2 linked regions of the Homo sapiens genome follow. The protein of the gene in region 2 interacts with the protein of the main gene of each other region in a biochemical or structural test. Each region holds a gene or a part of one and is shown on either strand. Other genes may lie near its edges.

Region 1 (8,039 bases), on a different chromosome or scaffold from region 2:
GAACCATGCCCTGGGCAAGAGGCAGCCAGGAGGATCACAGCTTTGGGCCCTCACCATTGAGAAAATGCTCCAGGCTGAAAAGCTTGGTCTTGACCTCCCGCTGGATGGGGTTGGGGCATGAGTCATGGGCTGAGGCACAAGGCCCGCTCCAGAACACCTTGCACTGACACAGGCGGATGGCATAAAGGTCCTGGCCCTGTAGCTGGAGGATGAGCCCGCGGTCCAGGACATCCAGCAGCTGGTTCGTGTAGAAGCGCTGCTTGTCACTGGGGATGTCCTCAGGGCTGGGGAAGCGCACTTGCTCCAGGCTTATGGGGCCGAAGAGTTCCACCTGCTCCTGGGTGGCCTCCAGCTGGCTGTAGAAGAGCCGGCAGCCATGGGGGTTGCTGATGGTGAGGGCCCGGGGTGGCCGCCCCCGGTACTGAAACTTGATCTCCAGGTCGGTCACTGTGGGGCAGAAGGCAGGCCCATCCCGTCCTTGAGCCCCACGCCTCCCCATTCTGCAGCCCAGTGGCCAGGCCCAGCCCCATCCGCCCTCCCACTTTTCCCACCCAAGGGAGTCCAGCACCCTCCACCCTCCTTGCCAATCCTACCCCAATCCCCCAGCACTGCTTCCCCGTGCCCAGCCATGGGTCCTTACGAGGCAGCATGTGGGGGCTGATCAGCAGGTCTGGCAGGAGCTGTTCGCCTGCAGGGGGCAGGCTGGCAGGCAGGGGCCCAGGCTCCAGGACCTCAGAGAGAAGCTCCCTGAAGCCAGCAGGGTTGCCAGGGGGAGGAGCCAGGGGGCTGGGGTCTGGAGCAGGGGGACCCAGCACCACGGGCGGCTGCAGAGTGGGCGGCTGCAGAGTAGGCGGCCGCAGAGTGGGCGGCTGCAGAGTGGGCGGCCACTTGACATCCTCTTTGAGTAAAGAATAGGGTGTCATGTGGGGGCCAGACTGCACTGCATCTACAGAGAGTGCGTGTGGACGGCTGTCAGTGCCACCTCCACGAACTGCCTCCCAGGCACACCTCCTCCCAGCCCTGGGCCACCCTAGCCTCCCATCAGCCCCCTTCCAGGTACCTATGGTACCTATAGCTTCTCTGTATACTAGACCCCCAACCACCACCTCCCGGCCCCACCTGTGAGGCTCAGGCTTGGCAACATCCTCTGCAGCTGAAGGGACACCACCAGCAAGGGAGGGAAGAGATGGGAGAGAAAGGAGGACAGGTTATTCCACTGACCTGGGGCTGGGGAAATAACAGGCGAGAACTATGAGGCAACTCCCCTAGCCTCAGTTTAGCTCAGGCAAGACCCTGCCTCCGGTCCCAGCTCGTCCATCCCAGGCAGGTCAGAAAAGCCCTTTGCCTCACTTTCCTCATTTGCCTTCTGCAGGGAGTCAGACCTACCAAGCCCCAACTGCTGCGTGGGTCACACACACAGGGTAATGACAATGCCCTGGGAAGGAGCAGGTGGGGACTGTGCTCCTATCGTTCAGAATCCCAGGAGAAGAAACAAGGAGAACTATTGAGAGGGCCACGGGGCTCCATGGGAGTGGGGCTGCGGAAACCTAAGGCCGATGGGGACAGCAGAGAGCTCGTCCAGGGCTCCACCTGCCTCCTCAACCCACACTCACCTCTTCCTCTTCTTCCTCCTCCTCTCCTGCACCAAAAGAGTAATCCTCAGGGGGCTGGGAGTCTGCACAGCAGGGAGAGAAAAGCAGGGCAGTAAAGGAGTCAATGTCGGAGGAGAAGCAAGATCCCCTGAGAGGCTGCCTGTAGCTCCTATGCAGCTTCTGCCTTCCCCAAAGCTGCCCCCAACACAGGGCGAGGTGGAGGGCACAGCCACCAGGATTGGGAAAGACCTCCCCGACTCCATGGGCCATGAGACCTAGGCTGGAGCCAGAAGCCAAAACGAGGGCAATGGTAAGGAAGAAGCACCCAGGTCCCTGACTGCACGCCAAGCCATTCCTGATATGCCAGTGACCCATCCCAGCCACTCCTGGAAGCCCTGGGTGTCATGACCTAGCGGGAGCCCCCGCATCGTTTCCTGGACCACTGCCTGCTAGAGGGGCCCTTGGCCTGCCTGCACCCAAGAGCTCATGGCTGGGGGCCAGGACATTGCACAGCCTCCCAGGTGGCCCACAGAGGGCTAGGCCTGATACCTGTGGGAGCAGGGCCATTGGAGCAGACCTCGTAGATCTTGTAGGGCTGAGGTGGCATGTCCCGGGGCCCGTCGTAGATGAGGCGGAAGTCCCGGCTCTTGTTAAGGGCACAGCGCAGGTTGGCCTTCCACTTGGCCGGATCGGCTTCATCCACGCCTTCGGTGTATTTCCCTGTCTCCTTGGCCCAGGCCTGGGGCAGGAAGAAATAGCCGACCACAGAGAACCTCATCCCTGCCACAGCCCCAGTCTGCCTCCTGTCCCATAGGAGACTCTACTGTGTGGGGAGAACTTCGGCTACAGGCTGAGCCTCGCTGAGCCCCAGACCTGGTTTGCAGCGTGGGAGTCTGCCACAGTCCTGCCCCAGCCCTCAGGCTGCCAGCAAGCTACATGAAATCTAGGGGCTATGAGATGCATCCATAGTCCCTGCTCCTGGGAGGGTGAAACAGTGTGATCTCTAAGGAGGACAGCGTGCGGGATAAGGGTGAGCACCCTGGAGCCAGGCTGGGTTTGAATCTGGAAGTGCCCCCCGCCAGCTGTGTGCCAGGCCATGTCACTGCCTCCCTTTGTCTTGATCTCCTCACAGTTGCCCACCTCATGGAGTGGCAGCGAAGACTCAAGGGGTTGATGTTGGCTGGGCACAGTGGCTCGCACCTGTAATCCCAACATTTTGGGAGGCCAAGGTGGGAGGACTGCTTGAGCCCAGGAGTTGGAGTCCAGCCTAGGCAACATAACGAGACTCCTGTCTTTACAAAAAATTAGCTGGGCATAGTGGTGGGTGCCTGTGGTCCCAGCTACTCAGGAGGCTGAGGTGAGAGGATTGCTTGAGCTGGGGAGTTCAAGGCTGCAGTGAGCCATGATTATGCTCTGCACTCCAGCCTGGACGACAGAGTGATACCCTATCTCAAAAAAGATGAGGGGAGTTGATGTCCGTAAAGCACTCAGAGCTAAACCTGCACATAGGACAGGCTCGAGACACTGGAGCTGTTGGTATTATTTTGAATGGCAATTAGGTGAGGTGAGGGTTACCAACATTTCTTTCTACCTTTTAACCCAGCTATTTGATTTCTAGGAATTCATCCTAAATATCATAGAAGCATTCACACAAAATATTGCACACACAAAGTTATTCGCAGCAGTGCTGTGTGTAAAAGATGACCCAAAATACCCAATGCAACATCCATCAATGAGGGGCTGGTGAAATTACGGCCAACCCATTGAATGAAAAATACTGGGCAGCACAAAAAAAGAAAAAGCAGGAAACTGTTTATAAGCTGACATGTAGCAATCGTCAAGAAGTATTAAGTCTAGACAAATATGCAGATATCTAGCATTTCTTATGAAAAGTAGAGGAAAGGATAGTTCCATATTTGCTTACATGTGCATAAAAATCTCTCAGGAAGGCTAAACAAGAAAATGACAACACGGCTGCCTCTAGGGAAAGGCTAGGGAGGGGAGTGGGTGGTGATGAACCAGGGAAGGAGGGAGACTTTTTGCTCTAAACCATTCTATGCCTTTTAATGTTGAATTTTGTGACTGTATTACCTATACAAAATAAATGGATTAGCAAAAGAATTTTGGAAAGGTAAGGATCAAGCCCAAAAACTAAGAAAATATGTACCCAAAGTTTTAAAAAATAAGCATTGCCTTTGACCCAGCAATTTTCAACTCTAGGAAATCAACCCCCAAAATAATTGAGGATGAAAAAAAGGGAAGCATTAAGACAGCCTACATGACAATGTGGTTTTTAAGTTCAGGTTTTAAAAGCAATCTCAAGTATCTAAAAACCAAGACTCAGTGACCAAATTGTGCTAAACCATTCCAGTGGAAATTCTACAGTCACGAAAAGTGATGTGGACGTATGTTGGAAAGGAAAGCTGATCCTGATATTGGGTGAAAAAAATCCAGGCTATAAATCAAGATATTCACTTGATTCCAATTTTGCATTCCATATACACACATGTGCAAAAAAACTAAAATGTAAGCAAAAACTATTATGCGAGGTACATCCTAGCATTAAGATTATTGGAGAGAGCACAGTGGCTTGCGCCTGTGATACCAGCTACTCAGGAGGCTGAGGTGGGAGGATCACTTGAGCCCATGAGCTTGAGACCAGCCTGGGCAACAAAGTGAGACCTCATCTTTACAAATATCAAAATCAAAAAATTAGGCTGGGCACGGTGGCTCACGCCTGTAATCCCAGCACTTTGGGAGGCCAAGGCAGGTGGATCATGAGGTCAGGAGTTCAAGACCAGCCTGGCCAACAGGGTGAAACCCTGTCTTTACCAAAAATACAAAAAAAAAAAAAAAAAAAAAAAAAAAAAAAAAAATTAGCCGGGCATGGTGGCAGGTGCCTGTAATCCTAGCTACTCGGGAGGCTGAGGCAGGAGAATTGCTTGAACCCAGGTGGCAGAGGTTGCAGTGAGCTGAGATTGTGCCATTGCACTCCAGCTAGGGTGAAAAAGCAAGACTCCATCTCAAAAAAAAAAAAAAAAATTAGCTGGGCATGGTGGCATGCACCTGTAGTCACGGCTACTCAGGAAGCTGAGACTGGAGGATCACTTGAGCTGAGTTGGAGGTTGTGCTATGACTGCACCACTGCTCACCAATGGTGCAACACTAGGCAACAGAGCAACAACTCATCTCAAAAAAAAAAAAAAAGAGTATATATGTACAGTTGTAGTACATCAATTAAAAAAAAAGATTGGGCCGGGCATGGTGGCTCACACCTGTAATCCCAGCACTCTGGGAGGCTGAGGTGGGTGGATTGCTTGAGTCCAGGAGTTCAAGACCAGCCTGGGCAACATGGCAAAGTCTCTACTAAAAGTACAAAAAATTAGCCAGTTGTGGTGGCAGGCACCTGTAATCCCAGCTACTCAAGGAGGTTGAGATGGGAGACTCACCTGAGCCTGGGAGGTCGAGGCTGCAGTGAGCTGAGATCAAGCCACTGCACTCCAGCCTGGGTGACAGAGTGAGACCCTGTCTCAAAAAAAAAAAAAAAAAAAAAAAAAAAATTGGAATCTGGTCAACAGTGTGAGGCCCTGTCTCTAAAAAAAATTAGAAAATTTAAACAATTGAAAGATTGATGATGTATCTGAATCTTATATTAAAAATAGTTTGTTCCCAACACAAAGAAATGACAAATGTTTGAGATTATGGATATGCTAAGTACCTGATCTGATCACTGTGCTTATCAAATCACCACTGTGTACCCCATAAATATATACTAATTTAAAAATAAAATTTTTAGAAAGATGATGATCGTTGGCTTCCTTTAGCATATGCGTGCACTGAACAAGTCCTCATGAGTAATAGGAGTGAGACGAGCAAAGGGTGAGTAGGACGAGTTATGGGAAGGCCTTCTGGGGACCCTCAGTCCCCACGATGCTCTAGGGTGCAGGTTAGAAAAGATGTGCCCTAGGCCAGGCGTGGTGGCTCATGCCTGTAATCCCAGCTACTCAGGAGGCTGAGGCAGGAGAATTGCTTGAACCCAGGAGGCAGAGGTTGCAGTGAGCTGAGATCGTGCCACTGCACTCCAGCCTGGGCTACAGAGCGAGACTCTGTCTTAAAAAAAAAAAAAAAGGAAAAAGGTGTACCCTGTGTCTACGTCTGCATCCCCTTAGTCCGGGCCCGGCATCAGCAGCAGCATGGTAGCTGGGCGGGTGGCCAGCCTCGAGGAGCTGCCTGTGTGCGTTATGTGCGCTCCTCTTCTGGGGACAGGGTGCCCTGGAGGTCCAGCCAACCTCCTCCCCGGGGCTTACCTTGAAGATGGTGTTATCTCCGTCCTGGCTGGGACCATGCCTTGTGGCATGCCTCCAGGGGATGCAGAATAATTTCTTTTCCCCGTTGACCCATTGAAGCCCTGGGTACTGGCAGCTGTTCACCTGGGCCACCAGCCAGGGCTTCAGCCGCACGCGGCGGGGTGGGGTGGGAGCCACTGGGATGGACTGGTTCATGGCAGAGGGGTCTGCAGGAGAAAGCCAGAGGGGAGCCTCAGCAGGTCTGCAGGTGGATGGGGACAGGGTACTCAGAGGTCAAGCTATGGACCACAAAGGATGGTCTCTCCAGTCCATCTAGGTATTTAAGGCCAATTCTCTTTTCCAAGCATCAGCTTTCTTGTCTAGTGTCATGGAATTTTGTGTTTGGAGGAAGGGAAGGAGAGTTACGAGTTAGTGAATGCTGCGGGCGCGGCCCCAGGTGCCCTTTACCGGGCAGAGGCATCCATTCTCCAACTGCTAACAGCAGCAAGCAGCCCGTTGGCCAGAGAACCGCCTTCCACTACTCACACCACAGGTTAGGCCCACCCCTTGCTCTTGGGGGGCAGCCCACAGCCAGTGACTGCCTGACACCAAAAGCCCGGCTGTCTTGTCTCAAGCTGGCTACCTGGGACAGCGAGCGCTCTGTGGGATCAGCCCGAAGACAGCCTCCTGCTCAGTCTACACCCCTAGTTCGATTCTTCCCTGCCCAAGTTTTCTCACCCTCCATCCCCTGAGAGTTCCCTCCGGAGATGCCCTCAACAAGAATCTCATCTGGAGCTCCCAAGGACACCTGCCCTCAGAGGAAAGCAGTTTCTCAATATCTTTAGAGAAATCCCATCAACCAACTCAACCCACCTCCAATGACAGCAGGCACCAAACAGATGTTACCTCTCTAGGGCCATTCATCTAGGTTCTTGGTCCTCCCCCTTCTCCTCCCACTGGACACGCATTCGGGTAGCACTTAGGAAGGCCCTAACGCCTGCCGGAGCCTGTTAGGAAGGCTACAGGAAACAGAAGCCACAGCTCTAACTGCTACCTACCCAGGGGCACGAGCCCCGCCTCCCAGGCCACAGCTTCACTGCCTCCCTGGAGTCAGGCCAGAGGGACCCTGCCTCCTCCCCTTCACCTGCCCAACTCCCTCTCCAGCCCAGAACCGGAAACTCTCCACAGTCCTGAGTCCCCTTCTGTCCCTCTCCTCCCCTTACCCATGCCCTTGGCCCTTCACTTGAGACCCCTGGGTGGAAGACAGAAAGGACTGGGTCATTACACAGCACAGCCCATCAGAAGTGAATGTGTCGGTCAGCAAGTAAGGAGCAAACGTTCGAGCTGAACTCCCTGTGTCTGGGCCTGCTTTGGCCTTGCAGCATGGAGCCTCAGTTTCCCCTGAAATTCCCTGCCCAGTACCTTTTGGGGTTGCACCTGCCTAGTGCCGCCTCTGAGCTGCTACTGTCTCACATTGCAGGCCTCCCTCAGAGCCCAGCTCTGCTGCCACCAACCCAGGAGAGGTAAGGCCGGCCCTTGCCTGGCCCAGGGGCTGGGACGGGGAGGTGTTCAGAACGCTCCAGCCCTGCCCTGGCCTCAGAACACGCGGGCTCAGTTCCGCTTTCTGCCCCAGCCTCCACCCGGCCCCAGGGGAAACGAAAGTGGCTAGACCGGGACAACTCAGAAACCAGACTCACTGTGGGCTGAGGGAGGGAGCCGAGTGGGTCCCCCAGACCAAATTTCCAACCTCCCACCCAGAGCTGTTCCCCGCACCCCAAACTTGCAGACAGTTTTTGTGCATTTAGTGTGGTTTATAACATGGGTGTGCACCCACCCATAGTTGTATCTGTAGACCCCTGAGAGGCCTTGGCCCTAGAATAGAGGGGTGCCAGTCACCAGCGGCACACAATTCTGGCCGAGCAAGGGTGGACAGAGGAAGCTCTGTCTGCACAGAATCGGGGAGAGCTTCCCTAATGACCCCCTGGGCTGAGGCCGTGCAGGCGCTGGTGCCGTTGGGGAGCTCAGAGGGTCCGGCTGCCTGCCCCCTACTGTCAGTCCAGCAGTCTGGCCCTGCCCAACACGGCTGTTTAATACAGAGCAAGGTTTTGAAATGATAACTCCGACCTCAGTGTCAGAGGGCCGCGTCCATACAGGCAGCTTA
Region 2 (8,532 bases):
GCCACCATGCCCGGCCGATTTGTTTTTTTAACAGATAGAAAATCATTTGAGGGGGAAACTGATCCATTTAAATAATTTATTTTATTTTATTTTATTATTATTTTTTGAGACGGAGTCTTGCTCTGTTGCCCAGGCTGGAGTGCAGTGGCATGATCTTGGCTCACTGCAAGCTCTGCCTCCCAGGTTCACGCCATTCTCCTGCCTCAGCCTCCCAAGTAGCTGGGACCACAGGTGCCTGCCACCATGCCCGGCTAATTTTTTTTGTAGTTTTAGTAAACACAGGGTTTCACTGTGTTAGCCAGGATGGTCTCGATCTCCTGACCTTGTGATCCGCCTGCCTCAGCCTCCCAAAGTGCTGAGATTACAGGCGTGAGCCACCGCACCCGGCCTAAATAATTTATTTTACTTAAAAAACAGTTTTGCTCAACCTCGTTCATGAGCTGTGTTGTGTTCTTAATGTTTATCAATAGTACATTGCTCAGTTCTGGAAAGCACTTAGCCAGATATTTAAAAAGCAACAGAAATTGAAGGGCAAAATAGAAGATGGAACAAAAACTCTCCAATAGTGTATTCAACTTAACAGGTTTTCAACTCACCAGGGTGCTATTGGAATACAATTGTCCCCCTGGTTCCTGTCATACAAGATCAAAGTTAAACCACTAAACACAATTGCAGCATCCTTGACTTCATACACTTTCCTTTCCACACATCCATATAGACGCCCGAAGCACCCTTCAGGGCAGAATTGTCTTTTGTCCCTCACTCTCAGGGGACAACCATTCACTAGGGCCCACCTGCCAGCCACCCCTGCCACTGTCACTACTGCTGGTATTAGGGGGCAGGGGTGAAGGAGGTGGCCAGATCAGGGCTCGGGGTGCCTGGCTGAGTGCCCCCTCCACTGAGCCCATTCCTGTGCCTGCAGCTTCCCACAGGCTGAGGCCCCAGTGTCCTGCTTGTGCTGCTGAGGGGGCTCCATGGCCTGTTGAGAGGCCTCCCCAGGAAGCCCATAGGGAGGAGGTTGGGGTGTCTCCTGCCTTGGGGGTGGGACAGTCCCTTCTTGTTCCCACCCCAGGTACCTGACCCAAGTTCTCCTGTGCATGAGGAATGCCTGGATGTCCCTCCTTGGTAGGTGGGATGGGCCAGAGGGAGGTCCTGCCTACACAGCCCTTAATTAGGAATTTAGAGATTTGTGCTCTAGGAAGGAGCTGCTTCCGCTACCATTTGGCCAACTGTGTGCTGTGCAGACCCGCAGCTTGGAAACAGGTTTCAAGGATGTTCAGGACTTGCCTCGTGTTCATAAAGGTCAGGGGTCGCCTCTTGCCCCCTGCTCCCCTGCTAACTCTGCAGCAGGCCCTGGACTAATTAAGTCCCCGCAACAGCCCCGAGACCCAGGCTCTGTGAAAGTTGTCAGAATCAAAATGGAGCCACTTCTGTCCAACCCTAAGAGCAACAACAAAATCATGCGGCCGGGAGGTTCTGAAGGAGGGCCCTCCCGCACACCTGCCTATGATCAGAGCCCTTCCGAAGCCTCTGGGAAGGGCACAGATGCCTGCAACAAGACCTTTTTTTATTTTTTATTTTTTGCCGGGACTTTGCAGCTCACTATGTGAGTCACAAGGACGGCTAGCCGGCTGCACAAGAACACTTGCCTAATAACGCTGTGTCCACTCATAAACTTATGCCGGTTCCTGGGATAAGCCCCTGGAATCAGTGTTCTCTTCCTTTCAAAACAGCTGTGTAGGTGGATGTGGTGGTGAGTGCCTGTAGTCCCAGCTACTCAGGAGGCTGAGGCAGGAGAACCCGGGAGGCAGAGGTTGCAGTGAGCTGAGACTGTGCCACTGCACTCCAGCCTGGGCAACAGAGCAACTCAAGAAAAAAAAAAAAAAAAAGACAAAAACCAAAAACCGACCATGCACTGCTCCTTTCGCCTTTCAAAGCACCCCTTGCCTCCCCTCCTCCGATGCGCCCCTAGTTTACTAAGGCCGGGGCTCTGCATGCAATGCTGCTGCTTATTCCCAGTTAAACTCCATAGTTTTGGAGAGCCTCCCTCTGTTTCTTAAGGTTGACAGGACTATCATTCTTTTCGTTCATAGATGAGGGAATTAAGGCTTGGAGAGGTTCCGTTCTGAAGGACACTCAGTAAGTGGTGGACAGAGAATTTCAGCTCAGACTCAAAGGCTATTTAATTTACTTCTTTTAAATCCATGCTTCTTAGCACTCAGCTAGTCACGTATCACCTTGACAACTTTTTGCCGTAGCCACATTACTGCCTGTGGTATGATTTACTGAATATTTTTCTCTACATAAGCTCAGATTTGCCTTAAGTCTATTAGAAAAGGAAACTTGTAACTGAAAAATGGAAGACCACCATCTCTTGCCATAAACAGAAGCAACTGTGTATTCCACACACACCAAAAGCAGTGTTCTTACAGCCTCCTTAGATGTTTTGAGTCTAAAGCATGCTTTATCTTGTTAAAGGGGAGATGGCAAAGTTAGGGTGGCAGTGAAACTAACCAAAGGTGGGGAAACTATGCAAAGTCCACAAGGCATTTCTTATTTTTTTCTTTTTCTGAGATGTTGTCTCACTCTGTCACCCAGGTTGGACACATATCTGGTTGTCAAGGATTAGGGACAGGGGAAGAGGTAGAGGAAAGAGGTGGCCTGGTTATAAAAGTACCCTGTGGGGTTGGAGCTCTTCAGCATCTCAACTATGGTGCTGTTACACAAACCTACTTAGGTGATAAATTGTATACACACTCCCACACACATGCACACGAATACAGGTAACACTGGGGAAATCTGAATAATAACTGTGGATTATGCCACTGGGGGAGACTAAGCAAAGTGCACAGACATCTCTTGTACTTTCTTCTTTTTTTTTTTTTGTTTAGACAGGGTCTTGTTCTGTCACCCAGGCTAGAGTGCAATGATATGGTCTTGACTCACTGCAACCTCCACCTCCCGGGCTCAAGTGATACTCCCACCTCAGCTTCCCAAGTAGGTGGAGAGATAATTTCAGCTCACACCCAAAGGCTATTTAATTTATTTCCTGTGGAGGGACCACAGGAGCAGGCCATTTCGCTCCGCTAATTTTTGTATTTTTTGTAGAGATGAGGTTTTTCCATGTTGCCCAGGCTGGTCTCAAACTCCTGCGCTCAAGTGAATCTCCCGCCTCAGCCTCCTAAAGTGCTAGGATTGCAGGGGTGAGCCACTACGTAGGGCCTCTTGTATTATTTCCCTTTTTTTTTTTTTTGAGACAGAGTCTCACTCTGCCACCCAGGCTGGAGTGCAGTGGCATGATCTCAGCTCACTGCAACCTCCACCTCCCAGGTTCAAGTGATTCTTCTGCCTCAGCCTCCCAAGTAGCTGGGACTACAGGTGCATGCCACCACACCCAGCTAATTTTTTGTATTTTTAGTAGAGATGGGGTTTCACTGTGTTAGCCAGGATGGCCTTGATCTCCTGACCTCATGATCCACCCACCTCGGCCTCCCAAAGTGCTGGGATTACAGGCATGAGCCACCGCACCCAGCTTGTATTATTTCTTACAACTACTTGTGAATCTATAGTTCTGTCAAAAATTCCAACTTAAACATGAAACTCAGGGTGGCTATAAAGCCTCCTGACTCACCTTGACTTTGGAATCAATCAATCAATTAATTGAGGAGACCCATTAGTGAGTCTCCTCTGACTTTCAGCCAAGAATGTTCCTAACTCAGCAAGATGAAGCAGGAGGTAGAGGAAACTAAGGGGGCAACAAGCAGGGGGCAAGAAGGACCTATGAGAGCGACATCTTCCCTGAGAGCCCCAGGACGACCACCGGGAAGCCAGGAGGGCGCAGGCAGGAGGACCCGGGAAAGCTCGGCCTGAGGGAGGCCCTAGGCGTGGTGGGGAGTGGGGCAGGGCAGGCAGAGGCTGGGCAGCAGGTGAGGTCCCCTGGGTTCTGAGGGCCAAGCCTGGGGTTTGAGGTAAACAGGCTCGAGTGGAGAAGGGGCTGCTGTGGTTGGGCTGGGGTGGGTGGAGCTGGAGGAGCCTTTTCTTCTTGAACCAGTTTTTGAATTGTGCTACAAAACACGGTACATCAAGTTTACCTCCTTCACCATTTTCAAGTGTACAGGGCGGCAGTGTTGAGTACACGCACAGTGTTGTGCAGCTGATCTCCAGAACATTCTCATCCTGCAACCTTGAAGCTCTGTCCCTATTAAACTCCAACTCTAACCCTAACCCCAACCCTAACCCATTGCCTCCTCCCTCAGCCTCAGGCAACCTCCATTCCACTTCTGTCTCTATGTATTTGACTCCCCTCGGGACCTCAGAGAAGTGTGTTCGTGCGTATTTGTTCTTTTGCACTGGTATATTTCACTGAGCATAATGTCCTAAGGTTCATCCATGTTGTAGCAGGTGTCAGGGTCGCCTTTGTTTTCAAGGCTGCGTGATACTCCATTGTATGTGTGCACCCTGTTTGGTTTCTCCATTTCTCTTTTGCTGGACACTTGGGTAGCTTCCAGCTCTTGGCTGCTGTGGATAATGCTGCTGGGAACATGGGTGTGCAGTTATCTGTTCGAGTCCCTAGTTCGCATTCCTTTGGCTACACACTCAGAGTGGGATGTCTGGACTGAAGCAATACTTTTGAACTCAGCCTGAGGTTACCAAACTCTCTGAACTCCTTATCAGAGGCTACACTTCTGGGTGTTCCCCGGGGCCCATGGAAAACAGACTCACCCCAGGCTCCATCTACCTGTGCAAGGGAACAGGGGTCAACCTCAAGTGCACAGGCTGCTCTGGAAGACCCAGCCCAGGTCTGGCTGACCCAGAGCACTGGCCCCTTCCCAGCCTGCGTCCTCAGGACATAGGTGTGGGCACCCATATACACCAAGTGGGTTCTAGGGCAGCCAGGCCACCCAGTGTGCCTCCTTTCACACTCCTCTGGGGCTCGTGACATTACGAGCCCTAACCCGGGCCCTGGCCTAGGCTGTGTGTTTCCAGTCTCACCTCTCTTCACACCTTGAATGAGGTGAATGAAGGAGTGGCAACGCGTCTCCCACAAGACACTGTGAGCCACACCCAGTCCCTTCCCTTCAGCAAGCTTGGCTTCAGGTCACAGGACTGGGCGGGGTCAAGATGGACACCAGGGGTGTGGGGAGGGACGTGGAGCATTTACAGCCAGGGGCAAAGTCCTCCCCTGATTTAAACCCAGGCAGCCTGCGCTGCAGCCGGTTCCTGGTGTCCCCACTTCGCCTCCCTCCTGCTGCCCCCAAGACATGCAGGGGCCCTGGGTGCTGCTGCTGCTGGGCCTGAGGCTACAGCTCTCCCTGGGCGTCATCCCAGGTAATGAGGCTCCCCAAGCTGTTCCACACACAGGGCACCCCCTCAGCCAGGCTGACCTGATCTCTACTCTCCCCCTGGCCAGCTGAGGAGGAGAACCCGGCCTTCTGGAACCGCCAGGCAGCTGAGGCCCTGGATGCTGCCAAGAAGCTGCAGCCCATCCAGAAGGTCGCCAAGAACCTCATCCTCTTCCTGGGCGATGGTGAGTGAGCAAGGCCTGTCCAGCCCCGTAGTCCTCACAGCCCCGGCACCCGGGACCTTCAGTGGTTCCAGGACAACCCTGGGGCCCAGGACTCACACATTTCTGCTCCTTCAGGGTTGGGGGTGCCCACGGTGACAGCCACCAGGATCCTAAAGGGGCAGAAGAATGGCAAACTGGGGCCTGAGACGCCCCTGGCCATGGACCGCTTCCCATACCTGGCTCTGTCCAAGGTAAGGGCTGGGCCACCTCAGAGTCCTCCAAGCAGAGGAGAGGGATCAAGGATATGGAGTGTGGCAGGAGGGAGGGAGCCAGGACAGCTGGGGCCTAAGTTAGGAGCTGGGAGCAGTTAGGATCCCAGAGGACCAGAACCAGGTCCTTGGTTGGGGTCTGGGTGTCCGCCCCGAAGTAGAGCTCAGGGTGTCTCCGTTCGCAGACATACAATGTGGACAGACAGGTGCCAGACAGCGCAGCCACAGCCACGGCCTACCTGTGCGGGGTCAAGGCCAACTTCCAGACCATCGGCTTGAGTGCAGCCGCCCGCTTTAACCAGTGCAACACGACACGCGGCAATGAGGTCATCTCCGTGATGAACCGGGCCAAGCAAGCAGGTGAGCTGGGGCCCGCTGTGGGGTCAGGACCAGGCCCAAGATCTCGGTCACCGATCCTGACCTCTGTCACCCTCAGGAAAGTCAGTAGGAGTGGTGACCACCACACGGGTGCAGCACGCCTCGCCAGCCGGCACCTACGCACACACAGTGAACCGCAACTGGTACTCAGATGCTGACATGCCTGCCTCAGCCCGCCAGGAGGGGTGCCAGGACATCGCCACTCAGCTCATCTCCAACATGGACATTGACGTGCGACCCCCGGGCCAAGGGCTGGGGCTGGGCAGAGGGGAAGGTGGCACAGGCTCAGATCCAGGCAACCAAAAGCCTGATCTGGGTCAGCAGGTTCTGGAGGTGGAGTTGGGGATGTAGAATGTGCAATACAGGCTGGGCCATTCCCACAGCCCTGGGGAGGGGAGCCAGGGGCTATGCATGAGGAGGGGGCACGGGGCCAGCCAGGCCCCCAAACCACCTGCCCCATCCATTGTCCTCAGGTGATCCTTGGCGGAGGCCGCAAGTACATGTTTCCCATGGGGACCCCAGACCCTGAGTACCCAGCTGATGCCAGCCAGAATGGAATCAGGCTGGACGGGAAGAACCTGGTGCAGGAATGGCTGGCAAAGCACCAGGTGATGGGGGCTGGTGGGTGTGGGAGGCACGGCAGGGGGAGGCCAAGTGTGTGGGTCTCAGGGCTGTGGGCTGAAGCCTGGCTCTGTCCCTGCAGGGTGCCTGGTATGTGTGGAACCGCACTGAGCTCATGCAGGCGTCCCTGGACCAGTCTGTGACCCATCTCATGGGTAATGACCCCCTTCCTGCCCTGGCATTCCTCAGACAACCTCAGAGGGTGCCATCCGAGCCTGTGTGCCCATTTGCCAGCACCCTCCCGCTCACAGCCTGCCAATCACCACCAAGCTCCTTGTCCCACAGGCCTCTTTGAGCCCGGAGACACGAAATATGAGATCCACCGAGACCCCACACTGGACCCCTCCCTGATGGAGATGACAGAGGCTGCCCTGCGCCTGCTGAGCAGGAACCCCCGCGGCTTCTACCTCTTTGTGGAGGGTGCGTGGTGGCCCCTGGGGAGTGGAGGAAGGCGGGGCGCGGCAGGGCAGGTTCAAGCATCACCCCCCTCTGGCCTTCCTGCAGGCGGCCGCATCGACCATGGTCATCATGAGGGTGTGGCTTACCAGGCACTCACTGAGGCGGTCATGTTCGACGACGCCATTGAGAGGGCGGGCCAGCTCACCAGCGAGGAGGACACGCTGACCCTCGTCACCGCTGACCACTCCCATGTCTTCTCCTTTGGTGGCTACACCTTGCGAGGGAGCTCCATCTTCGGTAGGCCTGGGGAGAGTGGCAGGTGCTGCTGCATCAATTATGAGGGTGAAGTTTGAGCTTCAGTTTCCTCCTCTGTCAAAAGTGTGCAATGCTGGCACCAGCCCTATAGGGATCTTGTGAGGACCGAGCCCCCGAACAGGCAAAAAGTGGCGGTGCCTGGCACATAGGAGGCACTCCCACAGCTGTGGTCAGCTCAACTACAGGGACCCGCATCTCCCTACAGGGTTGGCCCCCAGCAAGGCTCAGGACAGCAAAGCCTACACGTCCATCCTGTACGGCAATGGCCCGGGCTACGTGTTCAACTCAGGCGTGCGACCAGACGTGAATGAGAGCGAGAGCGGTGAGTGAGGCTGAATGGCCCGTGCAGGGGGACCAGGGTGCCAGGGATGGGGGCATTCGCGGGAGGGGGACGCCGCCTGCCTGCCCTGAAGTGCACTCACCCTCCTACCAGGGAGCCCCGATTACCAGCAGCAGGCGGCGGTGCCCCTGTCGTCCGAGACCCACGGAGGCGAAGACGTGGCGGTGTTTGCGCGCGGCCCGCAGGCGCACCTGGTGCATGGTGTGCAGGAGCAGAGCTTCGTAGCGCATGTCATGGCCTTCGCTGCCTGTCTGGAGCCCTACACGGCCTGCGACCTGGCGCCTCCCGCCTGCACCACCGACGCCGCGCACCCAGTTGCCGCGTCGCTGCCACTGCTGGCCGGGACCCTGCTGCTGCTGGGGGCGTCCGCTGCTCCCTGAGTGCCCCACTCCGGAGTTATCCTGCTCCCCACCTCCGGGCGTCCTGCCCTGTTCCCCGTCCTGAGCCGCCACTTCCAGCGAACACACACAGGTGTCCTGCCGTTGGACCTTCACCTCCTAGAGATAAACCAGCCTCAGCTGGCGCAGCGGGGCCCTTCTTCCCTCCGCATCCCCTTCAGGGAGCAGGAGCCCAGGGCGCCCTGGGAGCTGAGCCTGGGACTTCCAGGACCTCCCCTCAGGTTGTTCTCTGATTCTTCCTCCCAACCCCAGAGACTGCAGATTTGTGCCATGCGGCTGCCTGCACCCCAGACAATAAAGGGACCA

What was found. Proteins that work in one complex are often made in the same cells at the same time.
Region 1: the proteins of ALPI (region 2) and IRF5 form a complex in vitro, tested with the Homo sapiens proteins (one study listed by BioGRID).

The regions. Positions count from the first base shown.
Region 1 is NC_000007.14:128,940,137-128,948,175, reverse strand, and holds part of IRF5 (interferon regulatory factor 5), read right to left. Parts: exon of another isoform or gene 6,752-8,039; intron 6,106-6,751; 5' UTR 6,095-6,105; coding exon 5,900-6,094; intron 2,332-5,899; coding exon 2,142-2,331; intron 1,676-2,141; coding exon 1,614-1,675; intron 1,154-1,613; coding exon 1,120-1,153; intron 947-1,119; coding exon 641-946; intron 448-640; coding exon 55-447; intron 1-54. UniProt on the Homo sapiens protein: Transcription factor that plays a critical role in innate immunity by activating expression of type I interferon (IFN) IFNA and INFB and inflammatory cytokines downstream of endolysosomal toll-like receptors TLR7, TLR8 and TLR9.
Region 2 is NC_000002.12:232,450,939-232,459,470, forward strand, and holds the start of ALPI (intestinal-type alkaline phosphatase precursor), read left to right. Parts: upstream 1-5,214; 5' UTR 5,215-5,261; coding exon 5,262-5,328; intron 5,329-5,410; coding exon 5,411-5,527; intron 5,528-5,641; coding exon 5,642-5,757; intron 5,758-5,960; coding exon 5,961-6,135; intron 6,136-6,211; coding exon 6,212-6,384; intron 6,385-6,626; coding exon 6,627-6,761; intron 6,762-6,856; coding exon 6,857-6,929; intron 6,930-7,059; coding exon 7,060-7,194; intron 7,195-7,278; coding exon 7,279-7,470; intron 7,471-7,693; coding exon 7,694-7,810; intron 7,811-7,921; coding exon 7,922-8,208; 3' UTR 8,209-8,532. UniProt on the Homo sapiens protein: Alkaline phosphatase that can hydrolyze various phosphate compounds.